Homo sapiens: one gene and its partners. The protein of the gene in region 3 interacts with the protein of the main gene of each other region in a pairwise test. Each region holds a gene or a part of one and is shown on either strand. Other genes may lie near its edges.

Region 1 (7,023 bases), on a different chromosome or scaffold from region 3:
TGGTCCTGGAGGGCCACCCCAGCTCCTCACAGTGAGCCTGTCCCTTGCACTCATCCAGTGCCTCCCAATGGCTGCAGGAGAGCGCCCAGCTCCGTGACAAGCTGTCCCAGCTGCAGCTGGAGATGGCGGAAAGCAAAGGCATGCTGTCAGAGCTGAACCTAGAGGTGCAGCAGAAGACCGACCGGCTGGCTGAGGTGGAGCTGCGACTCAAGGACTGCCTGGCTGAGAAGGCACAGGAGGAGGAGCGGCTTAGTCGGCGCCTGCGTGACAGCCACGAGACCATTGCCAGCCTGCGGGCCCAGTCCCCACCTGTCAAGGTGAGCCCTGGCCCACCTGATCTGTGCCTCAGCCCAAGGCCCCTGGCACCTGGGGCAGGGCTAGCCCATAAGGGGGGCTTGTCCTGGTGAATAGGTAGGTGTGTGTGGGTGGAAGAATCATTCCAGTTCTGTGCTTGGTCCTGCCCCTTCCCCTTCCTGTATCCAGGGCCAGGCACCGAGTAGGTATCCAACAGCTGAGGTGCCAGGCACAGATGCAGCGCAGCCCCTGGATTCTGCCCTCGTCTTTTTGCCTTTCTTGTCTGTACCCAGGATGGGGCCCCAGCCAGGCTCATAGTAGCCTCTTGTTAAGCTGAGAAGGTTCCAGGAGACCCCCCCAGCTTTCTGGAAAGCCAGGACCTCAAGGCTCCTCTAGTTTTTTTCTGGTTTCTGAGTGGGATGTTCCCGAGAGTTCCTTCCCCTGGCCTGCTGCGTCTCAGGCTCTTGGGTGAGGTACGGTGCCCGCTGGCTCCACGTGCCATTCCTCCCTCACCCTGCAGTATGTCATCAAGACAGTGGAGGTGGAGTCGTCCAAGACCAAGCAGGCCCTCAGCGAGTCCCAGGCCCGGAACCAGCACCTGCAGGAGCAGGTGGCTATGCAGAGGCAGGTGCTGAAGGAGATGGAACAGCAGCTGCAGAGCTCACACCAGCTGACCGCGCGGCTCCGGGCGCAGGTACCCAGGCTGTGTGGGGGCACATGCCCAGCCAGGAAGCCAGAGGCAGGCCCTTGGGCCAATGCATCGGTTAAACATTTGGGTACCCCACAGACACGGGGTCCAGTCCCTCCTCTCCCCGATGGCCACGGGACCCAGGGCAAGTTTTGTCTGGTTTCCTTTTCCTCATCTATTATAACACGATCTGGTCCCAGAACCCACCTCACAGTGGGGACTCAGGAACGTCATCCCAAGAAGCTTTGTGCCCACGGCCCAGCACACAGGCTGTGCTCAGTAAGCTCTACATGGCACTTGTCACTGTCATCACAGAGGCCCTCTCCTACCTTCCTGAGGGCACGTGGCTTGGGCACCTGATGTGTGCTCAGCACTGGGTTGGTGTTGGAGCCAATGCCCAGAGCTCACAGCCCTGTAGGGGGAGGGAGACAAGGCCATTCTGCCCCTCTGGGTGTGCACATGTGTGTGTGCATGTGTGTTCATGTGCATGGGAGGTGACCAGTTTCTTTCTCGGTGTGGCACCTGCCCCTCTCTCTCCCGCACCTCGAGGTACTGAGCCTTTTCCTGGTCTGGCCAGATTGCCATGTACGAGTCAGAGCTGGAGCGGGCCCATGGGCAGATGCTGGAGGAGATGCAGTCCCTGGAAGAGGACAAGAACCGGGCCATTGAGGAGGCCTTTGCCAGAGCCCAGGTGGAGATGAAGGCTGTGCACGAGAATCTAGCAGGTGAGCTGACCAGCTGGGCCCTGTCTGCCCCACGCCGCGGCCCCTCATCCCCTCCCGCCTCACAGCCCGAGTGTCCCCATAGGCGTCCGGACCAACTTGCTGACCTTGCAGCCGGCACTGCGGACCCTCACCAACGACTACAATGGGCTCAAGCGGCAGGTGCGCGGCTTCCCACTGCTGCTGCAGGAGGCCCTCAGGAGTGTCAAGGCCGAGGTGAGCGAGGGCAGTGGGTGGGAGGGTCCAGGCTAAGGGGGTGCACTGGGAGAGGCACGACATCCACTCAGGGCGTCCCTCCAAAGCTCAGACAAAGCCGCTCAGACAGCAGCCCCTGCCCCACCCCCCATGACACTTACTGCTGCCCTTATAGGCCCTGTTTGAAACTAGACTGCTCAGGGCAGGCATTCGGCTATTTGTCTTACTATGATTCTTTAAACCAAACATGTTACAGATAACTTCATATTTCAAACATGCAGGCCAGGCGCGGTGGCTCACACCTGTAATTCCAACACTTTGGGAGGCCGAGGCAGGCGGATCACTTGAGGTCAGGAGTTTGAGACCAGCCTGGCCAACAAGGCGAAACTTCGTCTCTACTAAAATTACAAAAATTAGCTGGGCATGGGTGGCAGGTGCCTGTTAATTCCAGCTACTCGGGAGGCTGAGGCAGGAGAATCACTTGAACCCAGAAGGCGGAGGTTGCGGTGAACCAAGATCATGCCACTGCACTTCAGCCTGTGTGACAGCGAGACTTTATCTCAAAAACAAACAAAAAACATGCTACATACGTATTTTTTAAAAAAATTATTTATTAGAGACAGGGTTCATTATGTTGCCGAGGCTGGTCTTGAACTCCTGGCTTCAAGCAGTCCTCCTGCCTTGGCCTCCCGCAGTGCTGAGATTATTGGTGTGAGCCACCATGACTGGCCGATACAGTCTTACCTCTGTTAGGTTTAACTTAATTCTTTCAAGCTGTACTTGTACATATGAGAATAACCAGTGCCTCTTAAGTGCCTCCTACATGTCGAGCTGTTTATAGCCGTTAGCTCCTTGAATTTGTATGATAGCTTTGCAAAGACTAATATATTTTGGGAACAGAATATAGTTCTTCTCCTTTAAAAGACTATATCAGTAATACATGGACGTGGTGAAAAGTCAAACTCCATAGCAGGGCATCAGGTGAATAGGAAAGGCCTCTCTGCCACCCACCCAACTCTTCCAATGTGGCCTCTCAGCATTTCCCCCGACTGTTCTGAGCATGCTTAAGCCAATTGTGCGTGTGTGTGTGTGTGTGTGTGTGTGTGAGAATATATGGTAGGCCCTTCCCCCATCCACAGGTTCTGCATTCCCAGATTCAAACAACCACAGATCAAAAATAGTTGAAAAAAATTAACAGTACAACAATTAGAAATAATAGAAATAAAAAATAACATATAACAACTATTTACACAGCATTTTTTTGTTTTTGAGACAGTGTTTCACTCTTGTTGCCCAGGCTGGAGTGCAATGGCGGGATCTCAGCTTACTGCAACCCCCACCTCCCGGGTTCAAGCGACCCTCCTGCCTCAGCCTCCTGGATAGCTGGGATTACAGGCGTGTGCCACCATGCCGGGCTAGTTTTGTTTGTTTGTTTGTTTGTTTTGTATTTTTAATAGAGGCTGGGCTTCACCATGTTGGCCAGGCTGGTTTTGAACTCCTGACCTCAGGTGATCCGCCCACCTCCGCCTCCCAAAGTGCTGGCATTACCGGCATGAGCCACTGCACCCAGCCCCTACCCAGCATTTTCATTGTATTAGATATTATAAGTAACCTGGAGATGATTTAAAGTACATGGGAGGGGCTGGGCACAGTGGCTCACACCTGTAATCCCAACACTTTGGGAGGCTGAGGCAGGAGGAGCACTTGAGCCCAGGAGTTCAAGACCAGCTTCGGCAACATAGTGGGACCCCATCTCTACAAAAAAATATAAAAAAACTAGCTGAGTGTGGTTGCCTGCACCTGTAGTCCCAGCTACTCGGGAGGCTGAGGTGGGAGGATTGCTTGGGTCTGGGAGGTCAAGGCTGCAGTGAGCCAAGATAACACCACTCACAATGAGTTTCCACCACATCCATGGAGCTGTGATTGCACTTCCAGCCTGGGCAACAGAGCAAGACCCTGTCTCAAAAAAAATAAAGTATATGGGAGGATGTGTGTAGGTTATAGGCAAACACTATATCATTTTATATCAGGGGCTTGAGCATCTGTGGATTTTTGTATCCTCCACGGTTACTAAGGGAAGACTGTATACACTGTATACACTTCCCTTCTACTCCAGAAAGGGGATGTGTGATTTGTGTACAGTGTGATACTGTATGTGTGATTTTGCATCTTTTTTCTACCTGTGAAATGTAACTGGGAGATCTTTACAGATTCATGAGTTAGATGGTATTATCCCTGCTTTCCAGATGAGAAAATTGAGGCTTAAAGACATTGAGCCAGTGGTCTCAGGTCCCCAGCTACTCAGGGGCAGAGTTGGAATTTGAGTCTGGCTGAATCACATAGTCAAGCACTAGTGCTGTGGTGTGGAGGGCTGAGTCCTGGCTCTATGCTTATTAGCAGAGCAGCCTCAAGCTGTCAGCTTAGTGTCTGCGGCTCAGTTTCATCATCTGTAAAATGGGGATGGTAGCAGTACCTACCCAGAGGGGTGATTGGGACAGTCTGACATGTGACAGCGTGTGTCAGGTACTCAGCCAGGGGCAGGAGGCAGTGAGCACCCCTCAGGGGTGGGCAGTCAGGCCGGTAAGGCTGATGGAGCCGTCCCCCTGACAGTGGTGTGCACCCCCCACCAGATAGGCCAGGCCATCGAGGAGGTCAACAGCAACAACCAGGAGCTGCTGCGCAAGTACCGCCGCGAGCTGCAGCTGCGTAAGAAGTGCCACAATGAGCTCGTGCGGCTGAAAGGTGACTGCAGGAGGGCTGGGGGTGGGCGCTGGCCTCGGGGTCCTCGACCTGGCTTGGCAGTCATGCTTGGAGCTCACCCCACCATTGAGGCACTATTCTAATCCTATCTCTGTAGATAAGGAAACAGAGGCACAGAGAAGGCAGGGAACTTGCTCAAAGCCACATGGATATTAAATGGTCTGCCTTGGATTTGAACTTGAGTCTGTCCAGCTCAGAAGCCCTGGCCCCAGTGCCTGGGCAGGTGACTCCCCAGGCCCTGGGTAGCCGAGGGGTGTGGTGTTGCAGCATTGGGTTGGTGGCAGCTGGAAAGCCGCTTATTCTGACCTGGGGCCTGGTCAAGCTTGAGACTCCACCATTCACTGCATGGAGCTCTAGAGTGCCTGCTCTGTGCCAGGTGCCGTTCCAGCCCGAGGCTATGGTCGTGGCCCCACAGACTGCCTCCCGGTGCACACTTTAGTGTGAGAATCAACAATGATGATTGTCAGGGAACCCCAACCCTGCCCCCTTCCAGGGCTGAGACAGGCTTTCCTGGGTATGGGACAGGCAAGTGTGTTGAGGGGCTTCCCAGAGAAGGCAAAGTTAGAGCTGAGACCTGGACAGTGAGCTGGAACGGATGGGTGAAAAGGGAGGGCAGGTGGGCCATGCTGGCAGTGGGGGGTGTTTCCTCTTCATTCCAAGAGCACAGGGATCCCAACAAAGGCTGGAAGTAGATGGCGGCATGACCAGCTCATGCTGCCAGATACCCCTGTGGCTGCCCCACTATCTGGGCCCTCAGATACACCACCAGTCATCACCTGCTGCCTGGGCCTATATGCCCATCTGATTCCTAAGCCCTGTCCTGCCATTCAGGACAAGGCTCTTTGCTCATTGGGGCCCAAGCCCCTCATTGTCTGGATGAAGAAACTGAAGTCCAGGGAGAAAAAGAGTGTCCGTTCTGGTGTCTCACCCTGACGGGGTGCAGTGCTTGAGCCCCACAACTGACCTTTCCTCCCCATCCCCAAGGCAGAGCTCCACCCCAGTCAACTGGTCTGTTCAAGAAGAAATGTACTAAGTGAATTCATACTATAGTGTGAATGACGGATAACAGCTTTGTGGGCCCCCTTCCCCTAGGGGGCTGTGCTTAAAAGTCAGGGGACTCCTAGGTCAACTAGTCTGCCTGGGACACCAGTGGACCAGAATGGAGACTGGTCTTGACATGGCCTGGACCCATTTCCCCATCCCCAACCAATCCAGGGAACATCCGAGTGATTGCTCGTGTCCGGCCAGTCACCAAAGAGGATGGGGAAGGACCTGAGGCCACCAATGCTGTGACTTTCGATGCCGACGACGACTCCATCATCCACCTGCTGCACAAGGGCAAGCCTGTGTCCTTCGAGCTGGACAAGGTCTTCTCCCCACAGGCCTCGCAGCAGGACGTGAGTGTGGCCCCATGCGGGAAAGGGAAAGCAAGGGAGAGAGGGAAAGATGGACTCACAGGGAGCGGGGGCGCTGGGCAGGAAGAAGCGTTAAGAGTGGGGGGTGCAGGAATCAGAAGTGGGGAGCCAGGGTCCTGCTCCTTCCTCTGGAGGACAGAAGAGGGTGGGAAGTTAAGACTGAAGCCCTTGAAAGCCTCCTTAGGAAGGAGAGATCCAGACACAGCCCATCCCCTCCCATGGCTGTGGTTCCTCCCGTCCCCAAGGCCCCTTCTACCGTGTGGCCCCGCCCACCCTTGAGGCCCTTCCCACTATCGTAACTCATTCCATTCTCTCAGCTGTGGCTCCTCCCACCATGTGGCCCCTCCTATATCCACAGCCCCTTCCACCACATGGCCTCACCCACAGCCCCTCCCACCACCATGGCTTTGGGTCCTCCCATTCAGGTGGCCCCTTCCACTGCATGGCCCTGCCCACTCCCAAGGCCCCTCCTACCATCACAGCCCATCCCACCCTCATGCTGTGGCTCCTCCCATCTGCATGGCCCCACCCACCCTCAGGCCCCTCCCATCTTCCCACCATGTGGCCTCACCCACTTTCAGGCCCCTCCCACCATCACAGCCCCTCCCACCCCCATGGCCACCCACATGGCCCCATCCATCTTCATGACCCTGCCCATCTTCCCCATCCGGGAATACCCTCCTGTATCAGTCCCCTGGGCCTTCCTAGGAATCCCCCAACCCCCTGAGGCTGTATGAGAACCATGTGTTCTCAGTGTCCACTCTTCCCTTATCTCTGCCCAGACCAACCTGCCAGCCCTGCCAGGCCTGTGCCCTCCTGTTCTCATGTCTGGTTCTATCTTTGCCCCCATCCTCTGATGGCTGGCAGGCAGGCCCAGGCCAGAGAGGCCCCAGGCATGTGCTGGCCTCCACCTTCCTTGTGCTGAGCACTCTTTGAGAGAGAGCAGGAG
Region 2 (7,023 bases), on a different chromosome or scaffold from region 3:
GGTGCTAGAACTGGCTCCCTTATGAAAGATAAGACCTGAATTATAAGCATATTTGAGCATATTGAAAGTAGCTAAGTAATGAATAAAAGTCAAGATGGACTCTTTCATTGGATAATTGGGTAATTTGCTTTCTCAATAGAAGGTGACACAGAATTGCTTGTAGAATAAAAAAAAATTCTTTCTGGAAGGAACTTTCTGGAAGTAGTTCAACCATCGTGTTTTATACTTGGTTGGCATGGCAGCTTGGGAACTCAAACCCTATTATTCTCAACTCTCAAGTGAGAGTTCCTTTTCCTACTGGATGCTGCCCCATGAATTTCTATGGCTTATGTGGTTATTAGGCCTTTATTTAGTCCTTGCAGCATCATAGTTATATGTATATGGATAAACAAGAAGCTGATTGCCCTTCTCTACTGAGGACATTAATTGGTGTTCATTTTCCCACAATAACATGGCTAAATAAGTATTAACATGTTACATTAAGAAATATGTCCTGCCAGGCACAGTGGCTCATGCCTGTAATCCCAGCACTTGGGGAGGCTGAGGCTGGAGAATCACTTGAGGCCAGGAGTTCAAGAGCAGCCTGGGCAAAATAGCTACACCCCATCTTTGCAAAACATTTTTTAAAATTAGGTGGGCATTGTGGCACATGTCTCTAGTCCCTGCTACTCAGAAGGCTGAGGTGGGAGGATTGCTTGAGCCCAGGAGGTAGAGGCTGCAGTGAACTATGATGGTGCCACTGTAGTCCAGCCTGGACGACATAGCAAGACCCTGTCTCTATAACAATAAAAAAGAAAAAAAGAATATGTTCATATTCACATATATCTTTAAATGATGGTCAGTTGTCTCAATATTCTCAGGGTTCTGCATTTTTACAGATCCTCACAACACTCAGGCCTTTGGTCTCTGTACTTACAACATATTGCTTTATTAATAAAGTGTTTTGCTGTTCATAGACTAAATGCCACCAAAGTCATATACTTTGTATGGGGTTTTGGTGATAGGCCAGGGCACCACATGTGCTGACTAGTGCTCTTTTTATAGTAAAACAGACTTATGAAAGCAAAAATTTATTGTGAAACTGTTTGGGGCATGCCAAATATCATAGGCAGTTAGCTCTTTGCTAACTGTAGAAACCCAGAGAATAGAATTGAGTGTTTTCTTAGGGAAGGGGCAATGAACACTTTGTGCCTGGGAGATCGAATGCTGCCAAGAAAGGGTTTCATTGCCCAGGACATAGTGGGGGAAGAAATGGAGACTAAATTCAACCTCTCCAAGATGGCCACAGGCAGGGGTGTTTTTTCTTCCAAAAGTATAAGAAAGCAAGAGAACCCAGTTTTGTTTTTAATACTTTTCTTGTTTGTTTTCTAGGTAGAAAAGTGTGGATTCACTAGAAATTAGAACTTGATTCCATTTTCTAAGATCCATTGTCTACATTATCTGCAGCTGAGAGCTTCTACTCAGGGGGCAAGGTGTCTAGCAGTTTCGATTTCAGAAAAGTGTTATTTCTGTAGTCTAAATGCAAATAATATGACATTTCCTTCTGAAGCAAATATATACGCACACACACACACACACACACACACACACATAAACACATCTCTGTTTCCTTTCTTGGTTTTTGTTTGGTTGTTTTTTTTTAACCAGAGATTGCCTTCATTTGATGGTCTAGAAGTGACTTTCTTTTATATGTGCTATTTTGAGCAGAAGGAGAACTGAGAAAAAGAAGGAAGGCCATCTGAATTTAGATAGGTGTAAAGTCAAAGAGGAAGAAGTTAGTGTTTAAGGCTAAAATAAATTGTCCTGTAAGTTATCCCACTGACCTTGGAATTGACAGGGTCACTTTTGGTTTCCACAGAGCCCCTTATCAATCACATTCATTTGGAGTTGGGAGGTACAATTTGCCTTCTTGTATGTTCTGAGATGTAAGAGCAATTTTCTTGTTTGATTAAGTGATTTATTCATCATTAAGGCTAATTTCCCAAATAGTCATTTTTATTTTGTAAAAATAAAGTTTGGAAGAGAAAGGGAATGAGATGAGATTTGTAGATGAGATTTTTATTATTTTGTCATTGTTTTATTTTATTATTTTTGTTATTAATGTTACTCAATATGTGGTTGCTTATAATTTATTTCACCAAGAAATTTAGAAATGGGAGATATTCCTTAAAACAGATTTCAATTTTTTTTAGCGCAACTTCTAGAATCCCAAACATACTTTCCTAGGTGATAAATACATGGCTGAAAAGCCAAGTTCATATTGAAAGTGTAGGTACAACTTAATGACAGCAATGTTAATCGTCCTTTTCGGTGTGCATGCATTTTTTAAGTCTCCTACATGTGAGGTATAATGCCTGGCAGCCACAAATAAACCTTGACCAAAGAGAGGATATTATTGATCACAATTTTTAAGTGGCTTATTCAAGATAGTGCTACATTTACGTTCACTTTTATCAAGTGGAAGCATCTCGGAGCTACCATCTATTTTATGTTTATATTTGTAGACAATGGGTGCCAAGTTCATTATTCTACAAAGCTATGAGCATGCCTTTGTGAATTAATATTAACAGATAAAGTAGAGATCCGAGGCACTTACATGAGTAAATAAGAAGAAAACCCCACACCATCCACAATATCCTGATATTGAGGGGGGAAAGAGTATTTTATAGACCGAAATTGACCAAATAATCAATGAACTCAATCAAATTAATTCAATCATGGCCCAAAACTTCATTGCCTCCTTGCCACCCTGAGCTGACATCATCCACCTGCAGCTGACCAACATGTGTACTGTATGCTTCCATACCTCCTGCTCAGTGGGCATCAGGCAGGTAGATGTGCTCTGCTCAACAGTATCCCATGAACAGTAATTGAGTAGGAGATGGTGGGGAGAGCAGGGATTCATGACTGAAGGTCAATTTATTTTCAGATATTCTTTTTAGATTGAGCAACACAGACTTCTTTTGGAAAATCTGATGGTAGATGAGTCAGCTTATTCTGATTGCATTTCAGGTGGAAGCCACAAATCCTACCACATAATTCTGCCCAATGTGCGCCTCATATTCACATTCTCAATTGGATGTAAACCTGAGCTTGTGAAGGTTACAATAGTTAAATGTATTAAGTCCTTATTATGTGCTGGGTATTGTTCTGTTTCCCATCTATTACTGTATTTAATCCTCATAGTAACACAAATAATGTACTCTTCTTATCCCCATCTTATAACGAGGTTGCTGGAGCTCAGCTGGGTTATGTAATCTACCTAGGGTCACACAGTCAGTGTGGAGTAAGGATTCTCACCTGGCTTCGGTTCCCATCACCTAAGGGTGTGGTCTAGCCTTTTAATAAGGTTCAGCTCTTGAGTTAAAACCTAAGCTCTGCAGAAAGCCCCTGGGAAATGTGAGGGCCAAATTAAAGGTAAGCTACAAACTTTCAGGTGAACCACATTAAATAATATTCTTAATGTCATTTAGACATAATGGAAGAGTTTGCCAGTTTTGTTGTTGAAAGTGCACAGGGCTGTGGGTTTGTATCCTCTGGTCTTCTCAACATGGTTTTAATACATATCTCTTTTAGAATGAAGTGTCTATGTTGAAAAATGAGGTGGCCCAGCTGAAACAGTTGTTGTTAACACATAAAGACTGCCCAATAACAGCCATGCAGAAAGAATCACAAGGATATCTAAGTAAGTCGCCGACTTTTTCACTTTTCTTTAGTGTCCAATATTTTTTGCCACTAAGTTTGCACTGAATTTGATTGAAAGAGCAAAAGTAAAGTGTAGATTGTACTTCCAGGCAGATATACAAGAATTCTTGAGTGGCTTCCAGACTATTCTTCCAAGGGGATCCCTTTTTTCTGACCCCTGTGCAACACCATGCCCACCACCTCCTGATAATTTCTGGCCACTCCTTCCCTAGCATTTCAAAGTATCAAAAGAAATACCAAATTCCAATTTTGCAGCCAGTAAGAAAAGAGCCAGCTGAAGCCCAAGTACCAGTGGCCTAGCAGTCGCCTTCAGAAATCTGTGGTCTGGGAACCAGGCCTTGGGTGAATCATATCCAGTGCCTCCAGAAACACTGCATGTTACTCACTGGGCTGAAAAGCTAGTGACTGGCCTCAGTTTACCAATATGTAAAATGATCCCTTCCTTCAGACCCCAGTTTCTGCATCTGGAATGCCAGTTGGTTAAATGATAGTTGAGTAGGGATGGTGGGAGGAGCAGGGATTCATGGCTGAAGGTCAATTTATTTTCAAATAATTTTTTAGATTGAGCAACACAGATTCTCCCACCACATGTGAGTATTTTTCCACATTTGATATACGGATGGCTATTTAAAAAGACAAAATGGGGAAGTTCACATATCCATGACTGAAACACATCAAATCATTTTACTGATACAGAAAGCATGGCTTTGCTCGTAGATATAAACTGGAAAGGCATAGCATTGTGACAACAGTTGAAAATAAAGTTTTGAAATTAACTTTCAGAAGAAAATGTGTGAAACTTCTATTTCAAGTAAATATCTAGTACAGTTTCTCTGAGGAGTCCACAAGTCCATACAAAAAAGACCTATATTGGTGTGTGTGTATGTGTGTGTGTTGTCTTTTTTTTTCTCCCTAGGTCCAGAGAGTAGCCCTCCTGCTAGTCCTGTCCCAGCTTGCTCCCAGCAACAAGTCATCCAGCATAATACCATCACTACTTCCTCATCGGTCAGCGAGGTGGTAGGAAGCTCCACCCTCAGCCAGCTCACCACTCACAGAACAGACCTGAATCCGATTCTTTAAAATGCACCATCAGACCTGGCCTCCAAGAAGAGCTGTAGCGTACCATGCGTCCTTTCTTTTAAGGGCATTTTTAGAATTAACTCAGACCTGGAAGACTCCTCAGTTCTTCAAAGACTGGCTTTCATTTTTATAGTTATTATGGAAATGTTGTCTTTTATACTTAGTTATATAAGAAAAAAGGGAGTTATGCAATTAATATCTATCAGCTTGGGAAACGCTTTGGTGCTTTTCTCCAGTTTTCTGGTACCAGTTACTTGTTTATAAACTGAACCTTTTCTGTATATAGCCATGGTTTCATTCTTATCAGTCCAACCCTTTGCCTGAAACATTGAATCTTGTTAAACCACAGCTTTTAGCTAAAATGAGGTATACCTAGATGTCAAGTAAGACAGATCCAAGGTAACTGGGTAGGAAATCTTTTGACATCTTAACTCATGTTGAGTTTGTGCTGTGGTGTCACCAGAATTCCAGATAAACACACAGCCTTTCCCATACCTTTTTTTTTCTTACTATAAAATATTATAAGATCCATTGATGTCCAAATAATACCACCAAGCATCTCTTCACCTCTCCTCCTCTTGGTCCACTTGCTAATGCCCAGTTTTCTTCTCCATTTCCACTTTTTCTTAGGCTCCCTATTTACTATTCATTTTGACTTCCTTCTGTTTTATTTTTTTCCCTTTAGCATTGCATGTGAATAAGAAAATAATGTTTAAAGAAAAAAAAAAAAAAGCAAACCTCCAAAACGTGGACCTAACCATTGCTTCACTTACACTTCACCCACAGCTGGAGTTCATTCAACTCTTGCTTTTCACAAAATAGTAACCAGGAGATGTTTAATGTGCCTGATTTAATGTTTTTAATAATCACAGCAAATGAAAGGTGGTTTAGTTATAAGTGAAGCATGGTTGAATACCAGCTGGGGAGACACTAGGGAAGGGAGCTTTGTAAGCCTTGATTGCGAAAGTCCAAATTTTGATGTGGGGCTATAACATGACACCCTTGGATTGCGACTGGTTTTATACGGCCTGCCTATAACGTTGAAAATCCATGTACTACATAATAATTCAGAAGGGCTCTATTCACTACACAGATTACATTGTTCAATCATCAGCTGCTAATAGCCTAAGATTTATTTTTTTTTTTTTCTTAAGCCTATGGAACCGGCTTTGCTGTTCTGGGGGGTGAAAATAGACTAACTACTGGAGAAACAAAGAGAGAAAGAAAACCCAGTGTTTCCATAGGGGCACTTTTAGCCTTCCCACAACAGTTAAGCACTCTTTGACTGCTGAAGGAACCCCATGGATGAGGTGCAGGCTACTTCACTCTTTTTTTTTCTTTTTTGAGACAGAGTCTCACCTATTGCCCAGACTGAAGTGCAGTGGTGCGATCATGGATCACTGCAGCAGCATCCTCCGAGTTCAAGCTATCCTTCCACCTCCGCCTCCTGAGTAGCTGGGACCACAGGTTCACATAACCATGCCTGGCTAATTTATTTTTACTTTTATTTTAAAATAAAAGATGAGGTCTGTCTTATGTTGCCCAGGCTGGTCTCAAACTATCCTACTTCTTCCTCCCAAAGTGTTGGGATTATAGGTGTGAGCCACTGCACCCAGCCTACTTCACTCTTCTGAATTATTCTGATTTATTTTCAACAACTTTTGTGAACTTGCCCGTGATACAAAGCAGATAGTCCCTGAACCACAGTCGTGCCTCCTTGAAACAAGCCATTCTACTGTGCTAATGTTTTAATATCACATCTCACAAATAACAGGGGTGAATGTTTCTCTCTAGCAATCTAGGCAGGTGCTGGTGTTTCATCTCCATTTGAATGCTTGACCTCTTAATGTGTGTGTGTGTGTGTGTGTGTGTGTGTGTGTTCATGGGTTTTAAAAGAACAGTATTTTACAAAAGGTGTAGCTTTTATAAGAGTGCAGAAAAGGGAAGGATGTGTTTTTTTCTCTCACTATAGTATAAGAATCTATTTTGGAGAAAAAAAGAAAATATGAGGGTCTCGAAGCATGATTTTTATATAACTAGTTTCAGTTTTATCTAATAACTTACTTTTTAAATCAATATTTATCAACAATCTTTCCTTGTATGCAGTGCTTTCAAAAGATGGTTTTGAGTGTCCAGTGAAACTTATGACTTGGATATATGGTTGAAGAATCAAAACAAAAGCAAAAAAAAAAAGCAAAAAAAGAAAAGAGAAAAAAAGAAAAAATGCAAATGGAATAA
Region 3 (7,886 bases):
TCTCTACTAAAAGTACAAAAATTACCCGGGCATGGTGGCACATGCCTGTAATCCCAGCTACTTGGGAAACTGAGGCAGGAGACTCAATTGAACCCAGGAGGTGGAGGCTGCAGTGAGCCAAGATCGTACCACTGCACTCCAGTCTGGGCAATGGTTGGGAGCAGTGGCTCACACCTGTCATTTCAGCGTGAAGAGAGGTGAAGGCAGGAGAAGTACTTGAGGCCAGGAATTTGAGACTAGCCTGGGCAATATATTGAGACCTCATTTCTACAAAAAAAAAAAAAAAAAGTAAAGATTTGAATAGATATCTGTCCAAAAAACGCCCAGCGCGGTGGCTCATGCCTGTAATCCCAGCACTTTGGGAGGCCAAGGCAGGCGGATCACAAGGTCAAGAGATCGAGAGCATCTTGGCTAACACAGTGAAACCCCTTCTCTACTAAAAGTACAAAAAATTAGCCGGGCGTGGTGGCAGGCGCCTGTAGTCCCAGCTACTCAGGAGGCTGAGGAAGGAGAATGGCGTGAACCCGGGAGGCGGAGCTTGCAGTGAGCGGAGATCGCGCCACTGCACTCCAGCCTGGGCGACAGAGCAAGACTCCATCTCAAAAATAAATAAATAAATGGTTATATATACTCAGCCATAGAAATGAGCAAAGTACTGATACATACTATAACATGAATGAGCCTTGAAAATGTTATGCTGTGAACCCAGGAGGTGGAGCTTGCAGTGAGCAGAGATCATGCCACTGCATTCCAGCCTGGGCCACAGTGCGAAACTCCGTTTTTAAAAAAAATAATAATACTAAGAAAAGAAAATGTTATGCTGGCCCAGTGCGGTGGCTCACACCTGGAATCCCAGCAGTTTGGGAGGCTGAGGCAGGAGGATCACTTGAGGAGTGCAGGAGGCCGAGGCTGCGGTGAGCCAAGATTGGGCCACTGCACTCCAGTATGGGCAACAGCAAGACTCCATCTAAAAAAAAAAAAAAAAGAAGAAGAAGAAAGAAAGAAAAAAAAAGCAAAAATGTTATGCTAAGTAAAGAAGTCAGACAAAAGACCACATAATATATGAATGAGTCCATTTATTTGAAATGCCCAGAATGGGCAAATCCATAGCGACAGGAAGCAAATTAGTGGATACCAGGGGATGAGGGAAGGGGGAAATAGGGAGTAATTACTTCATAGGTGTGGGGTGTTTTCTGGAGTGATGAAGTTTTGAAACTAAAGAAAGGTGGTGGTTGTACAACATTGTGAATGTAATAAATGGCATTGAAGTGTACACTTTAAAGTAGTTAATTGTTTGTTACATGAATTTAATCTCAAGTAAAAATGTAAACTTCAAAGGCCAGGTGCGGTGGCTCACACCTGTAATCCTAGCACTTTGTGAGACCGAGGCAGGCAGATTGCTTGAGCCAAAAAAAATTAGCTGGGCGTAGTGGCACGCGCCTGTAGCCCCAGCTACTCGGGAGACTGAGGAGGGAGGATCGCTTCAGCCCAGAAGGTTGAGGCTGCAGTGAGCTGCGATCCTGCCATTGCACTCCAGCCTAGGCATCTAGGCATCAGAGTGAGATCCTATCTCAAACCAAACAAACAAACAAACAAACAAAAACAACATAGACTTCAATTAAAGAGTGAATAGAAACTGATAAACATAAATATCACCTCCAATGCCCTGGCCATGCTGAGAATGCACAGGGTGCCAAGCCTCCTCTCCTTCACTGCAGCCCCAAAAGGCAGGGATTCTCTGGGGCTCAGAGATGGGAAGGGACTGAGCCAGTCTTACAGAGCCACCAAGGCACAGTGGCAGGGTCCCTCAGGCCTCCCTGCCCCCAAACTTCCAGCGATGGCTGTGGCCCCCTGGGGTTCTCTCCTGGCCTCCCTGGGTGGAAGCTGGTGAGGTCAGAGGCCAGGAACGTTTCTGCAGCCACAAGGCGGGGGTTAGTGACTGAGGAGGTTGGAATGTGCTCCCTCTGAAAGGACCTCCTTGTGGCTCCAGTGACGGTTAGAGCAGGAAGAGACTTTCAAAGTCATGTAACACACACACACACACCCCAGACCTGAATCCCTGCTCCCTCAGCTGCCCCAGTGGCCCCAGCATCCACTGCTTGGGGGCGGTGGGGTCAGGTGCAGGGTGATGTTTCTGGAGCAGGCAAGTGAATGCAGTCAAGGCTGACCTGTGTCACCCCTCCCCTGGTTACCTGTGTCACACTTGACCTGTCCAGCTTGGGCTCTGCCAAGAAGTTGAGGTATCAGTGTGTGTGCACATGTGCTGTGTGAGTGCCTTCATGTGTGATCAGTCCCAAAGGCTCTCACCCCTGGGTTGTTTTGTTTTGTTTTGTTTTTTGACGGAGTCTTACTCTGTTGCCCATGCTGGAGTGCAATGGCGCAATCTTGGCTCACTGCAACCTCCGCCTCCCGGGTTCAAGCGATTCTCCTGCCTCAGCCTCCCAAGCAGCTGGGACTACAGGCATGGGCCACCATGCCCAGCTAACTTTTGTATTTTTGGTAAAGACGGGGTTTCTCCATGTTAGTCAGGCTGGTCTCGAAATCCTGACCTCGTGATCCACCTGCCTCAGCCTCCCAAAGTGCTGGGATTACAGGCGTGAGCCACGGCACCCAGCCTATGTGTCAAATTCTTACTATGTGCTGTGCTAAGCATGTGACATTACTTGTGTCCTCCAACAACCCTTGAGATAGTTATCATTATGTCTCCATTTCACAGATAATGAAAGAGGCTCTGAGAGATTGTGTGCCTCACCTAGGTCACACAACTGGTGAGCAGCCTAACCACATTCAAACCCAGACCCCAGAGCTGTCTGACCCCAGCACGGGTGTTCTGTCCACGGATCATACTGCCTCAAAAACACTCTCCTCTCCTTTCTCTCTCTCTTTCTCTCTCTCTCTCTCTCTCTCTCACACACACACACACACACACACACAGAGATGATGATGACAAGAGGGTGACAAGCATTGGGTCGCTCAAAGGCAAAGGAGAGGCACCAGGCTGGTAACCACTTTCTGAGTGCATAACACTTTATAGCTTACAAAGCATTTTCACATCTGTGATCTCACTTGATCCCACAACAGCTCTGTGAGATCAGCAGGGAGGCCCAGTTGAAGGAAGGTGACCTGCCCAGTGTCACACAGACAGAAAATGGTAGCTCTGGGACTAGAACCCCAGGGGCAATCTGGACTTCCTGGCTCTAAGTCCTGAGTGCACCCACAGGCTTCTGGCCTGTGTTCCCAAGGAAAGTAGCCCAGAGGGCAAAGCTAGAGCTGATGAAATGGAAGGACCGATGGAGAAGCAGGAGAGCCCAGCCCTCTCTTGATCTATTTACTTTGAGTCTTGCTCTGTCCCCCAGGCTGGACTGCAGTGGCGCAGTCACAGCTCACCGCAGCCTCAACCTCCCTGGCTTAAGCCATCCTCCCGCCTCAGCCTCCAGAACAGCTGGGACCACAAGGCAGGCGTACCACCATGTCCAGAAAATTTTATAATTTTTTGTAGAGATGGGGTCTCAAATGGTTCTTTCTGCCTTGGCCTTCCAAAGTGCTAGGATTACAAGCATGAGCCACCACACCTGGCCCCAGCCCTCTTTCTGTAGTCGTGTGACAACTGACAGCTCAGTACTCCATCTGGGCCTCAGTTTCCTCATCTATGATGGAAGTAATCAGAGAGAAGCTTTGGGATGGTGCCCAGCACTAACATTCTGGATGTGCGACAAGGTGTCTGTGAAGGTGTAAGGGCTTTGAAAATCTTGGCTGAGCCTGGGCTTGGAGTGCCCACGGCTGTGACTTGGCAACCTGTGCCAGCTACTCACTTAGCGACTTCAAGCAATTCATTTCAGCATCTCCCAGCCTCAGTTTCCCCATCTGTAAAACAGAGATGAGGATGATACCTGCCTCACATTCACTCACCTTTGACATACTCTCCAAACAAGTCTGGTGGCCACAAGCCTCCGAAAGGCACTGACCGTAATGAAGATGGCGTTTATCAGACCTCAGGACACCTGTAGTGGCCCTGAATTAAAACTCGTTATAGCTCCTGAAATTATCCTGAGTAATACTATTATATTGCATTTTATGTGGGGTTAGTTCAAAGCATTACCTTATCGCAAACATTTAAAATATACCACCCAGCCTGGGCAATACGGCGAGACCCAATCCCTACAAAAAACACAAAAATTACCTGGGTGTGGTGACGCGCGCCTGTAGTCCCACTTACTTGGAGGGGGCGCTGAGGCAGGAGAATCCCTTTAGCTCAGGAAGTTGAGCCTGCAGTGCGCCGAGATCGAGCCACTGCACTCCAGCCTGGGTGACAGAGACCCGGTCTCAAAAATATAAAGTAAAATAAAATATGCCACCATTTTTGTAACCCTGGTTTGTCATTTATTCACTTTTCATATACTCGAAGCCTTAAAACAAGGCCAGTGGAAAGACCTCACTCCACGAAGCTTTGGGTGGCGGTTGGCGTGGCTCCTAGAGATGTGATTCTTTCGTGCTATTTTGTGGGAGCAGAAACGGAGGTTAGCCCAGGCCTCGAGAGGGCTGGGGCGGGGCGCGGGCTCTGGCAGGTGCGTCAGTCCGCAGGGGAACCCGGGGCTCCACCTGGGCGCGGCGAGGAAGTTACACCATGTATGGGCAGCTACGTCAGGGGGGCGGGCCCGCAGCCTCCGGGGAACGCCGAGCCGGGCCCATCCCGGTGAAAAGGCTGCAGCCGGACTTGGGGAGGCGTCGCCAAGTTCGGGACCGACGGGCCAAGGCGGCGCGTCTCGGGGGTGGAGCCTGGAGGTGACCGCGCCGCTGCAACGCCCCCACCCCCCGCGGTCGCAGTGGTTCAGCCCGAGAACTTTTCATTCATAAAAAGAAAAGACTCCGCACGGCGCGGGTGAGTCAGAACCCAGCAGCCGTGTACCCCGCAGAGCCGCCAGCCCCGGGCATGTTCCGAGACTTCGGGGAACCCGGCCCGAGCTCCGGGAACGGCGGCGGGTACGGCGGCCCCGCGCAGCCCCCGGCCGCAGCGCAGGCAGCCCAGCAGGTGAGTGGGGCCCGACGCCGGTGGTCCCACGGGAGGACCGCGCGTGGGAGGCCGGGGTCAACTCCCGCACGCTCCGGGACTGGAGCGGGGAACCGGAGTCGGGGCCGGGCTGGGGGCTGGGGCGAGGATCCTGCCCCTCGCCGTCCGGGGCCAGTTGCCCCCACCGCGCAGCGGGCAGCAGAGACCCGCGAACTCCCCTTCTCCCAGCCGCCCCCTTCTCCCTCGCCGTCCGCGTCCGTCCCTCCGTCTCCGTGCCCGCTTTCTCTCCTCCTGCCCACCTCTGACTTCTGCGTCCACCCTGCTTCAGAAGGGGCGTGGGCGCCTAGGGTGGTCGCCTCGAAGGCTAGGAGGGTCTCTCCGCTTCGGGCTGAATTCCTGGGATCTGGAGTCTGGGCTGGGGTGAGGGTCCCCACACGGGAGGGAGGCGGGATCCGTCGGGAGAGCAGCTGGGCCAGGGTGGGAGTCCCGGCCCGGTCTGCGACCCTCCGCGTGTCCGTCCGTCTGTCTGTCCTTCGCCCCTCCGTCGCCAAGTCCCTATCGTTTCTCGGCCTGGGGAGTCCAGGGGGGTCCGGGCAGTGGAACCTGCCAGGTCCCCGGAGACCGGCCCTCGATCCCTTTGCCGAATGCGGCGAATAGAGACCTCGAGGTTCCGGGACGTGCGCGGGGTCAGGCTGCGGGCGACTCTCGCGACCCCACTCTCAGCCCCTAACGGCGCCCGCTGCCCGCCGGGGGGCACCCGGGAGGCTGCAGGTGCCCATTTCCTGTCGAGGGGCTGCGAGCACGTGTCGACAGGGGAGGGAAGGAGGGGCGTCCGTTCCGCCGAGTCACGGCGGCCGAGTCACGGCGGCTGAGTCACCCGGGGCGTCCCTCCCTTCCTGGCCTGGAGCGGCCCGGGCCCGGGAGTGGGAGATGCCGCCGGCGGTGCCTCGGACCCGGAACTGGGGTCACTGGGACGCCGGGCCCGCAGCGCTTGGGCTCGGGCTACCGCTGTCGGGACTTGCCTGGGCTTGTGGGCGCTTCCCGGACGATTGGGCGCCCACACCCAGGGCCCAGCGGCAGAGCTAGAACCCACTTCTCCCAGAACACTGAGCCCCATCCCAACCCACTCCTCAGATAGCTGGCTGATAGAATGGGAACAGGGACGTTGTGCTGGGCGCTTGCTACATCATTTACCATATTTCACGGAATCGAAGACCTCATCGATTGAAAAAAAAACCCACTATAACTTTATGCCACTAATTTTCTTTCCTTCTCTTTCTTTTCTTTTTTTTTTTTTTTCTGAGACAGGGTCTCCCTCTGTTGCCCAGACTATAGAGCAGTGGTGCAATCACAGCTCACTGCAGCCTCAGCCTCCTGGGCTCAAGCAATCCTACTGAGATCCTAGCTGGGAAGCGACCTGGCCACAGGCACGCACCACCACACCCAACTAATTTTTTAATTTTTTTGTAGAAATGAAGTCTCACTGTGTTGCCCGGTGTGACCTCAAACTCCTGAGCTCAAGTGATCCTTCTACCTCAGCCTCCCAAAGTGCTGGGTATGAGCCACCATGCCTAGTCCACTAAAATTTTTTAAATTGCCAATTAAACTATGATTTCAGAGCTATTAAAGGGTACTTCTTAACATCAGTGAAATCCTGTAATCCTCACCTGTAACAATATTAAAAATGAGGAAACTGAGGCACATGGAGGTTAAATAACTTGCCCATGGTCACACAGCCAGTAAGTAGCTGAGAGCTGAGATTAGAATTGGGACAGCCTGCCATGCCAGGTGGCTAAAGCCTGTCATCTCAACACTTTGGGAGGCTGAGGTGGGTGGACTGCTTCAGCTCAGGAATTTGAGACCACCCTGGGCAACCTAGTGAGACCCTGTCTCTACAAAAAAATTTAAAAAAAATTAGCCAGGCCGTGCGCGGTGCCTCATGCCTATAATCCCAGCACTGTGGGAGGCCAAGGCGGGTGGATCACCAGAGGTCAGGAGTTCAAGACCAGCCTGGCCAACATAGTGAAACCCTGTCTCTACTAAAAATACAAAAATTAGCCGGGCACAGTTGTGGGCGCCTGTAGTCCCAGCTACTCGGGAGGCTGAGGCAGGAGAATTGCTTGAATCCAGGAGGTGGAGGTTGCAGTGAGGCGAGATCGGGCTACTGCACTCCAACCTGGGTGACAAAGCAAGACTGTGTCTCAAAAAAAAAAAAACAGAAAAGAAAAAAAAAATTAGCCAAATGTGGTGGTGCACGTCGGTAGTCCCAGCTACTTGGGAGGCTGAGGTGGGAGGATTGCTTGAGCCCGCAGGTCACTGCACTCCAACCTGGGTGAAAGAGTGAGACCCTGTCTCAAGAAAAAAAAAAAAAAAAGCAATGGAATGGCCTGAACCCAGAGCAGTGACTCTTTCCTGCCTCAGCCCCTCTGCACTGGGCACCTGCCACTTACCAGACTGTCGCACACATTCTCTCACCTGATTCTCACAGCCTCCCCTTGAGCTGGGAGCTGTAATTATCCTCTTCGTGCAAACGGGTGCAGGAGTGGGTAAGAGCCCAGCTGCTGGGCTCATTGGCTCTGTGTCTGCGGACAACTGTTCTCCCGTCTGAAAATGAAGATACTAGGCTGGGCGCTGTGGTTCACGCCTGTAATCCCAGCACTTTGGGAGGCCGAGGCGGGTGGATCACCTGAGGTTGGGAGCTGGAGACCAGCCTGGCAAACATGGTGAAACCCTGTCTCTACCACAAATACAAAAATTAGCCGGGCATGGTGGTGCACGCCTATAATCCCAGCTACTCAGGAGGCTGGGGCAGGAGGATCACTCGAACCTGGGAGGCGCAGGTTGCAGTGAGCTGAGATCGTGCCACTACACTCCAGCC

The links. The genes of interacting proteins can lie anywhere in the genome.
Region 1: the proteins of FOSL1 (region 3) and KIFC3 interact in binary tests that used the Homo sapiens proteins (3 or more experiments, as listed by UniProt).
Region 2: the proteins of FOSL1 (region 3) and CREB5 interact in binary tests that used the Homo sapiens proteins (3 or more experiments, as listed by UniProt).

The regions. Positions count from the first base shown.
Region 1 is NC_000016.10:57,764,492-57,771,514, reverse strand, and holds part of KIFC3 (kinesin-like protein KIFC3), read left to right. Parts: intron 1-77; coding exon 78-317; intron 318-814; coding exon 815-988; intron 989-1,559; coding exon 1,560-1,707; intron 1,708-1,789; coding exon 1,790-1,920; intron 1,921-4,529; coding exon 4,530-4,641; intron 4,642-5,874; coding exon 5,875-6,056; intron 6,057-7,023. UniProt on the Homo sapiens protein: Minus-end microtubule-dependent motor protein. Involved in apically targeted transport. Required for zonula adherens maintenance.
Region 2 is NC_000007.14:28,814,495-28,821,517, forward strand, and holds part of CREB5 (cyclic AMP-responsive element-binding protein 5), read left to right. Parts: intron 1-3,576; coding exon 3,577-3,685; intron 3,686-4,266; coding exon of another isoform or gene 4,267-4,271; exon of another isoform or gene 4,272-4,490; intron 4,491-4,621; coding exon 4,622-4,785; 3' UTR 4,786-7,023. UniProt on the Homo sapiens protein: Binds to the cAMP response element and activates transcription.
Region 3 is NC_000011.10:65,897,384-65,905,269, reverse strand, and holds the start of FOSL1 (fos-related antigen 1), read left to right. Parts: upstream 1-4,881; 5' UTR 4,882-4,930; coding exon 4,931-5,029; intron 5,030-7,886.